2 separate regions of the Homo sapiens genome follow, and region 2 is linked to region 1. Evidence: fine-mapped expression QTL. A gene starts in region 1. The other region holds a variant in brackets. All regions are shown on one strand. Distances are from middle to middle. Region 1 holds the start of ITGAL-AS1 (ITGAL antisense RNA 1). Region 2 overlaps ZG16 (zymogen granule protein 16).

Region 1 (4,393 bases):
AAAAAGATTAACAGGGTGTGGTGGCTCATGTGGGTAATCCCAGCACTTTGAGAGGCTGTGGCAGGAAGATTACTTGAGCTCAAGAGTTTGAGACCAGCCTGGGCAACACAGTGGGACACCATCTGTACTTTTTTTTTTTCTTTTGAGAGAGAGTCTTGCACTGTTGCCCAGGCCAGAGTGCAGTGGTGCGATCTTGGCTCACTGTAACCTCCACCTCCTGGGTTCAAGCGATTCTCCTGCATCAGCCTCCCAAGTAGCTGGGATCACAGGCATGCACCACCATGCCCTGCTAATTTTTTTGTATTTTTAGTAGAGACGGGGTTTCGCCATGTTGGCCAGGCTGGTTTTGAACTCCTGACCTCAAGGGATCCGCCCGTCTCGGCCTCCCAAAGTGCTAGGATTACAGAGTGAGCCACCGTGCCCAGCCCTTTTCTTTTTTTTTTTTAATTGGCCAGGTATGGTGGTGCATGACTGTAGGCCCAGCTACTTGGGAGGCTAAGGCAGGAGGATGACTTGAGCCTGGGAGGTCGAGGTTGCAGTGAGCTGTGATCATGCCACTGTACTCCAGCCTGAGCTACAGAGTGAGATCCTACCACAAAAAAATAATAAATAGGCCGGATGCAATGACTCATGCCTGTAATCCAGCACTTTGGGAGGCCGAGGTGGGTGGATCATTTGAGGTCAGGTGGACGTGGTTGTGGGGGCCCCTCTGGAGGAGCAGGGGGCTGTATACATCTTCAATGGGAGGCACGGGGGGCTTAGTCAGGAGTTCAAGACCAGCCTGGCCAACCTGTTGAAACCCCATCTCTACTAAAAATACAAAAATTAGCTGGGCATGGTGGCATGCGCCTGTAATCCCAGCTACTCGGGAGGCTGAGGCAGGAGAATTGCTTGAGCCCAAGAGGAGGATCTCAAAAAAAAAAAAAAAAATAGGAGCCAGGCACTGGGGCTCACTCCCGTAATCCCAGCTACACAGGAGTCTGAGACAAGAGGATCGCTGGAGGCCAGGAGTGTGAGGATGCAGTGAGCTATGACTGCACCACTGCACTCCAGCCTGAGCAACAAAGCGAGGCTCTAACAACAACAAAAGCTGCAACTTTATTATGAAGCATAATAAAATTCATGCAAGCATCACTGAAGGCTTAAACATAAGCATGAAAGTAACTCAGTATGATTTCTCTTCCTAAGAGCTTTCTCTTCTTCATGGAAAATGGGTCAGAGGCTGCTAGAATGAACTGGGAGCCCTAATTAGTTATCACCATTATTGGCCAGGCATGGTGGCTCATGCCTATAATCCCAGCACTTTGGGAGCCCAAGCCGGGAGGATTGCTTGAGCTCAGGAGTTCAAGACCACCCTGGACAACATAGGAAGGTCCCTTCTCTACAAAAATTTATTTAAAGTTAGCCAGGTGTGGTGGCACATGCCTGTGGTCCCAGATCCTTGGGAGGCTGAGGTGGGAGGATTACTAGAGCCTGGGAGGCCGAGGCTGTAGTGAGCTGTTATCATGCCACTGCACTCCAGCCTGGGCAACAGGGTGAGACCCTCTCTCAAAATAAATAAATAAAAAGTATCATTATTATTTTCCTTAAGAGGAGACAGTGACATGTTGAGGTCTGCTTTAGGGAAGGAGAGTTCTCTGGCTTTGCTGGCGGGAGCCCCACATCTGAGGGGGGACGTGCAGTTGGGTTGGAGGGAGAGAGTTGGTTGCCTTCTGCCCTGCAGCTCCCGGCCCGTGGTGGATATGGTCACCCTGATGTCCTTCTCTCCAGCTGAGATCCCAGTGCATGAAGTGGAGTGCTCCTATTCAACCAGTAACAAGATGAAAGAAGGAGTTAATATCACAATCTGTTTCCAGATCAAGTCTCTCATCCCCCAGTTCCAAGGTCAGAGCTCTCCTCCTGCTCCCAGGGCAGCTGCCGCCCCAAATCCAGGCTTATGGCCTGGGATCCCCCACCATTTAACTCTTGCCTTTTCCGCCCTGCCCAGGCCGCCTGGTTGCCAATCTCACTTACACTCTGCAGCTGGATGGCCACCGGACCAGAAGACGGGGGTTGTTCCCAGGAGGGAGACATGAACTCAGAAGGAATATAGCTGTCACCACCAGCATGTCATGCACTGACTTCTCATTTCATTTCCCGGTAAGGGAGCCAGCGCCAATGCTCTGGGATGAGCTACCTGCAGGGGCAGGCTCAGCTCCGTCACTGTCCAGTGGGTGACACGTCACTTCCATCCCTCTGTGCTGTCACTTCCTCTCCTGTGCAATGGTAGTAATAACACCCTTAGCATATTTTCTTCTAGTGTTTTTTTTAAATTATATATATATGTGTATATATATGTATATATATGTGTATATATATATATGTATATATATATATATATATATTTTTTTTTTTTTGACACAGAGTCTCGCTCTGTCACCCAGGCTGTAGTGCAGTGGCACGGTCTCACTTACTACAGCACGATCTCGGCTCATGGCCACCTCCACCTCCTGGGTTCAAGCAATTCTCCTGCCTCAGTCTCCCGAGTACCTGGGATTACAGGCACCTGCCACTATGCCTAGCTAATTTTTGTATTTTTGGGAGAGATAGGGTTTCACCATGTTAGTCAGGCTGGTCTCGAACTCCTGACCTCTGGTGATCTGCCTGCATTGGCCTCCCAAAGTGCTGGGATTACAGGCATGAGCCATCGCTCCTGGCCTATTTTATATTATTTATTTATTTATTTATTTATTTATTTATTTATTTATTTATTTGAGACAGAGTCTCGCTCTATCACCCAGGCTGGAGTGCAGTGGCATGATCTCGGCTCACTACAGCCTCTGCCTCCCGGGTTCAAGCGATTCTCCTGCCTCAGCCTCCCGAGTAGCTGGGATTACAGGTGCATGCCACCATGCCCAACTAATTTTTATATTTTTAGTAGAGTTGGGGTTTCACCATGTTGGCCAGGCTGGTCTCGAACTCCTGACCTCAGGTGATCCTCCTACCTCGGCCTCCCAAAGTGCTGGGATTGCAGGCATGAGCCACTGCCCCCGGCCATATTTTATATTTTTAGAGATGGGGGTCTTACTTTGTTGCCCAGGCTGGACTCTAACTTCTGGCCTCAAGAGGTTCTCTTGCCTCAGCTTCCTGAGTAGCAGGGACTACAAGTGCACACCACTGTGCCTGGCTGCTTCTAGGTTTTTAATTTTTTTAATTTTTTATTAAAAAAATTTTTTTAGAGACAGGGCCTTGCTCTATCGTCCAGGCTGGAGTGGAGTGATGCAATCATGGCTCACTGTAGCCTCCAACTTCTGGGCTCAAATGATCCTCCCACCTCAGCCTCCCGAGTAGCTAGGACTACAGGCATGCACCACCACATCTGGATAATTTTTAAAAATGTTTTTGTAGGCCAAGCGCGGTGGCTCAGCACTTTGGGAGGCCAAGGTGGGTGGATCACCTGAGGTCAGGAGTTCGAGACCAGCCTGGCCAACATGGTGAAACCCCATCTCTACTAAAAATACAAAATTAGCTGCGTGTGTTGGCACATGCCTGTGATCCCAGCTACTTGGGAGGCTGAGGCAGGAGAATTGCTTGAACCCAGGAGGCAGAGGTTGCAGTGAGCCAAGATCGTGCCATTGCACTCCAGCCTGGGCAACAAGAGTGAAACTCCATCTCAAAAAAAAAAAAAATAGTTTTTGTAGAGACAAGGTCTTGCTGTGTTGCCCAGGCTGGTCTAAAACCCTTGGCATCAAGTAATCCTCTTACCTTGGCCTCCAAAAGTGCTGGGATTACGGGCATGAGCCACCGTGCCCAGCAGCTTCTACTTTTTAATATATTTATGGGCATTTTTAACATGATTACAATGGCAATGTAGTTACTATTTTTCCCTACTCTTTTCATACATTATATATTAATGCTGCTACACAGCTTTCATAATTTTTAATTATGAAATATTAAAATGTTTGGCTGGGCACGGTGGTTCATACCTGTAATCCCAGCACTTTGGGATGCCGAGGTGGGCAGATCACCTGAGATTGGCAGTCCAAGACCAGCCTGGCCAACATGGAGAAACCCCATCTCTACTAAAAATGTACAAAATTAGCTGGGCGTGGTGGCCCATGCCTGTAATTCCAGCTACTTGGGAGGCTGCGGCAGGAAAATCACTTGAACCCAGGAGATGGAGGTTGCAGTGAGCCGAGATCGTGCCATTGCACTCCAGCCTGAGCAACAAGAGTGAAACTCCATCTCAAAAAAAAAAAAAAAAATTAAAATATTTAATTTTTACAGAATATTCAATCATCATGGTATGTTGTTATTTGCCAGGTACATATCATGCATCCCAGAAAAACTTAGGGATTTTTTAAAGTTTTTAAATTAAGTCTCATGTATGGTACATGGAAAAAAAAAGTTTTTA
Region 2 (4,350 bases), 720 kb before region 1:
GGGACATTGAAGGTAGCATCAGAGAGGAACAGGACTACAGGCTATGGACAGTCCTTTCTAAGCTCAAGACTGGGTCTGCTAGGTCTAAGTTGAAGGACGAAGAAGGCTTGGTCTGAGCTGCAGGTCAGGAGTGCCTGGGTCAATCAAGTCAACAAGGAAGAAGGTGAATCTTCATTTGCTCTTTTCTTCCCACTCCAGCCCCAGAATGTTGACAGTCGCTCTCCTAGCCCTTCTCTGTGCCTCAGCCTCTGGCAATGCCAGTAAGTGAGATACCAGGAGCCTGGTATTGGGGACTTGGGAAGGCAGCCTTGGGCACTGCTGTTGGCCAAGGCTTTTGGAGGTTGGCTTGGGGTGGGGAGCTGAGTTGTCGGAGGAACAGGGGTGATGCAGAGAAACTGAACTCCTGGAAGATTTCTCCCTCCAACTCCTGCTTGCCCCTCCAGTTCAGGCCAGGTCTTCCTCCTATAGTGGAGAGTATGGAGGTGGTGGTGGAAAGCGATTCTCTCATTCTGGCAACCAGTTGGACGGCCCCATCACCGCCCTCCGGGTCCGAGTCAACACATACTACATCGTAGGGTAAGATTCTTTGAATTCCTGGCTGGGCGCGGTGGCTCACATCTGTCATTACAATGCTTTGGGAGGCAGAGGCAGATCGCTTGAGGCCAGGAGTTCTAGCTCAGCCTGGGCAAGATGCCAGGGATGCCAGGGATTTAAACCATGCTCCAGGTACCAAGACCCCATCTCTACCGAAGAAAAACAAAAAAATTAGCCAGGCATGGTGGTGAGTACCTGTAGCCTCAACTACTCAGGAGGGAGAGGCGGGAGGATTGCCTGAGCCCAGGATGTTGAGGCTGCAGTGAGCCAAGATCATGCCACTGCACTCCAGCCTGGGTGACAGAGTCTCTTTGTTGGCAAAATGAGTTGAAGTTCCCTGTAGGATCTTCCAGGGTTCACCCAGGCTTCACAGTCTGTAGGACTAGCCAGAGACCTCTCATCCCTATCATCACCTTTCTTTCTCCTTCCTTCCTCCCCTCTTCCTCAGTCTTCAGGTGCGCTATGGCAAGGTGTGGAGCGACTATGTGGGTGGTCGCAACGGAGACCTGGAGGAGATCTTTCTGCACCCTGGGGAATCAGTGATCCAGGTTTCTGGGAAGTACAAGTGGTACCTGAAGAAGCTGGTATTTGTGACAGACAAGGGCCGCTATCTGTCTTTTGGGAAAGACAGTGGCACAAGTTTCAATGCCGTCCCCTTGCACCCCAACACCGTGCTCCGCTTCATCAGTGGCCGGTCTGGTTCTCTCATCGATGCCATTGGCCTGCACTGGGATGTTTACCCCAGTAGCTGCAGCAGATGCTGAGCCTCCTCTCCTTGGCAGGGGCACTGTGATGAGGAGTAAGAACTCCCTTATCACTAACCCCCATCCAAATGGCTCAATAAAAAAAATATGGTTAAGGCTAGTCTGTGTGGGGGCATCTGTGGCTGGGATATCTGCCTCCTGACTTAGCCGGGGACGTGCAAATCTCACTTCTGGCTGGCTTTGGACATCTGTCTGGAAGATGGGAAGATGAGGGAGAGGTATGTAAGAATCCTGGGCTTTGTGCTATAATTTATCAAGAGGAGATGAGATTCTGGCTTGCATCAACGCTCTTCAAGGACAGCTCCTTGGAACATTGATCCAAACTGGAGTCATGGGTCTGAGGGCAAGGCCTAGTTGTGGCTTACACCAAAACCCCAGATGTCCCACTCTCCAGCTCTCCTCACCCCTGGTCCTCCCCTTGAGAAAGTGGTGAACTCACTTGCTGTGTGTGGGTGGCCAGGACCATTAGCCTTTGTTCTTTCCCAGAACCCACCTGACTCCTGAAACTTAGCTGAAGTCTGTGCCCGAGGACCCTGCCCTGTTACCAGGCCCAGTTCCTCCTCACCTCTACCCATGAGCCCCGGTGTCCTGCTAAGCCCTCTCAGATCTGGGATTCCTCCTTCCTCAGGAAGCCACCACCTTCTCAGCAGTGGAAA[C/G]CCTGCCCACACTATGCTCTTAGGCTTTAGCCATCAGAAGGTTACAGTGGACTGCGGGAGGCTGACACTAGGCTGAACTCATTAAGGAATGAATGGGAGGTGAGAAGACACAGGCAGCAAGAATCGAGTGTTTCAAGAAGTTTGGCTGTGGTTTGCCAGAAATAGGCAAGTCAGTTTTCGGGGGTGTAAGGAAAAAGGGTTTTGTGTCTTTTTAAAATCCTAGACAGGAGAGTCACAAGCATGTTCACATGATAAAGAGGAAGAAAGAGAAAGAGGCTGGAGATTCTGAAAAGAGATCACTGGTGAGGTCTCAAAAGAGATAGAAGAGGATGGTTATGTAGTTGGGGAAAGAAATTTTAAGAAGGGAAGAAAATTAAAATGAGTGAAGGTATACGTTAGTTTTGTAAAAGTTATCAATATCTGGCTGGGCACAGTGCTCACACCTGTAATCCCAGCACTTTGGGAGGCCAAGGCAGGCAGATCATTTGAGGTCAGGAGTTGGAGACAAGCCTCCAACATGGTAAAACCCTGTCTCTACTAAAAATACAAAAATTAGCCAGGTGTGGTGGCAGTCACCTGTAATCCCAGCTACTTGGGAGGCTGAGGCATGAGAATCACTTGAATGCTGGAGGCAGAGGTTACAATGAGTTGAGACAGCACAACTGCACCCCAGCCTGGATGACAGAGTGAGACTCCATCTAAAAAAAAAAGGAATGTTATCAGTATCAAAATGGAGTAACATATGTCACATCCTAACAAAATGGAACCAACCTGACACCTAAATTAAGCATTGCACCTGATAACACCATGGAGGACTGGGTGGAGAATCAGCAGACAATGGCAGGGAGAGGCAGTCTGTGGACCAAGTTCAGGTGAAAGGATCACCCATCATGTTGGGCATCAGATCAGGCAGGTTCACACACTACCTGAGGAAGCTGGTCTTTGTGACAGACAAGAGCTGCTCTGCCTCTTGGGAAACACAGGCACCAGTTTTAGTGCCATCTTCTTGCACCCAAATGCTGTCCTTTAACTCATCAGTTACAGTGCTGGATCCCTCATCACTGCCAATACGGGGCTAGCAATATGTCTGCCCCAGTGAATGCAGCCGCCACGGAGCCCCAGCCTCCTCTATGGCAGGGGCCCTGTGGTGGGGAATGAGGACTTCTCTATCATTAACCTCCATGCAGTTGGCTCAAGAAAAGGATATGGTAGTTGGGCAAGGGGGCTCACACCTGTAATCCCAGCACACTTGTAATCCCAGGAGGGTCGCTTGAGCCCAGGAGTTTAAGGCCAGCCCGGGCAACATAGCAACCTGTTTGTAGGCAAAATGAGGAGTTGAAGTTCCCCGTAGGATCTTCTAGGGCTCAACCAGCCTTCATGTGCAGTGGGACTGGCAAGAAATCTGTCATCCCTGTTACCACTTTGAAGGTCTCAGTGTGTATGCAGGTCCTGAAAAGTTCAAGTCCCACCTGAAACGCAACACAGCATCATGCTCTGATTCATCAGTGATTCCCTAATCAATGCCATTGGCTTGCATTGGGACTATCTATCCCAGCCTATCCAGTGACTTCAGCAGCTGCAGAGCCCCAGCCTCTTCTTTGGCAGGGGCACTGTGGTGAGGAGGAAGGATTCCCTTATCACAAATCTCCATCCAATTGGTTCTATAAACAGATATGGTGGCCCAACTGTTGCGGGAAGTCAGGGACCCCGAACGGAGGGACTGGCTGGAGCCACAGCTGAGGAACATAAATTGTGAAGATTTCATGGACATTTACCAGTTCCCAAAATTAATACTTTTATACTTTCTTATGCCTGTCTTTACTGCAATCACTAAACATAAATTGTGAAGATTTCATGAACATTTATCAGTTCCCAAATAATACTCTTATAATTTCTTATGCCTGTCTTTATTTTAATCTCAATCCTGTTATCTTCATAAGCTGAGAATGTACGTCACCTCAGGACCCTGTGATGATTGCATTAACTAACAAATTGATTGTAAAACATGTGTGTTTGAACAATATGAAATCTGATTGTAAATGTGCATTTGAACAATATGAAATCAGTGCACCTTAAAAAAGAACAGAATAACAGTGATTTTAGGGAACAAGTGCAGAGGTTACAATGAGTTGAGATAGTGCGACTGCACTCCAGCCTGGATGACAGAGCGAGATTTCATCTAAAAAAAAAAAAAAAAGAATGTTATCAGTATCAAAATGGAGTCACATATGTCATATCCTAACAAAATGGAACAAAAAGGGAAGATAACCATAAGGTCTGACTGCCTGCGGGGTCGGGCAAAAAGAGCCATATTTTTCTTCTTGCAGAGAGCCTAT

Evidence for each region. PIP is the estimated chance that this variant, and not a neighbour inherited with it, causes the effect. A credible set is the group of variants that fine-mapping cannot tell apart.
Region 2: its variant is the best candidate, but not a certain one, in a credible set for the expression of ITGAL-AS1 in subcutaneous fat (GTEx, PIP 0.62).

What each region holds. Positions count from the first base shown.
Region 1 is chr16:30,497,351-30,501,743 of GRCh38, forward strand. It overlaps ITGAL-AS1 (ITGAL antisense RNA 1), which reads right to left and starts at 2,204. Exons shown (of 2, transcript NR_186415.1): 1 at 2,014-2,204; 2 at 1,080-1,801. ITGAL (integrin subunit alpha L) reads left to right here. Exons shown (of 31, transcript NM_002209.3): 16 at 1,724-1,884; 17 at 1,988-2,139.
Region 2 is chr16:29,779,062-29,783,411 of GRCh38, forward strand. It overlaps ZG16 (zymogen granule protein 16), which reads left to right. Exons shown (of 4, transcript NM_152338.4): 2 at 199-260; 3 at 444-576; 4 at 1,043-3,912. The coding sequence starts at 206. The coding sequence ends at 1,358. LOC124903675 (a long non-coding RNA gene) reads right to left here. Exons shown (of 2, transcript XR_007065048.1): 2 at 3,906-4,193. Among named protein-coding and RNA genes, the nearest start is that of ZG16, 3.0 kb to the left of the region's middle. The variant C/G (reference allele first, on the strand shown) is at 2,015.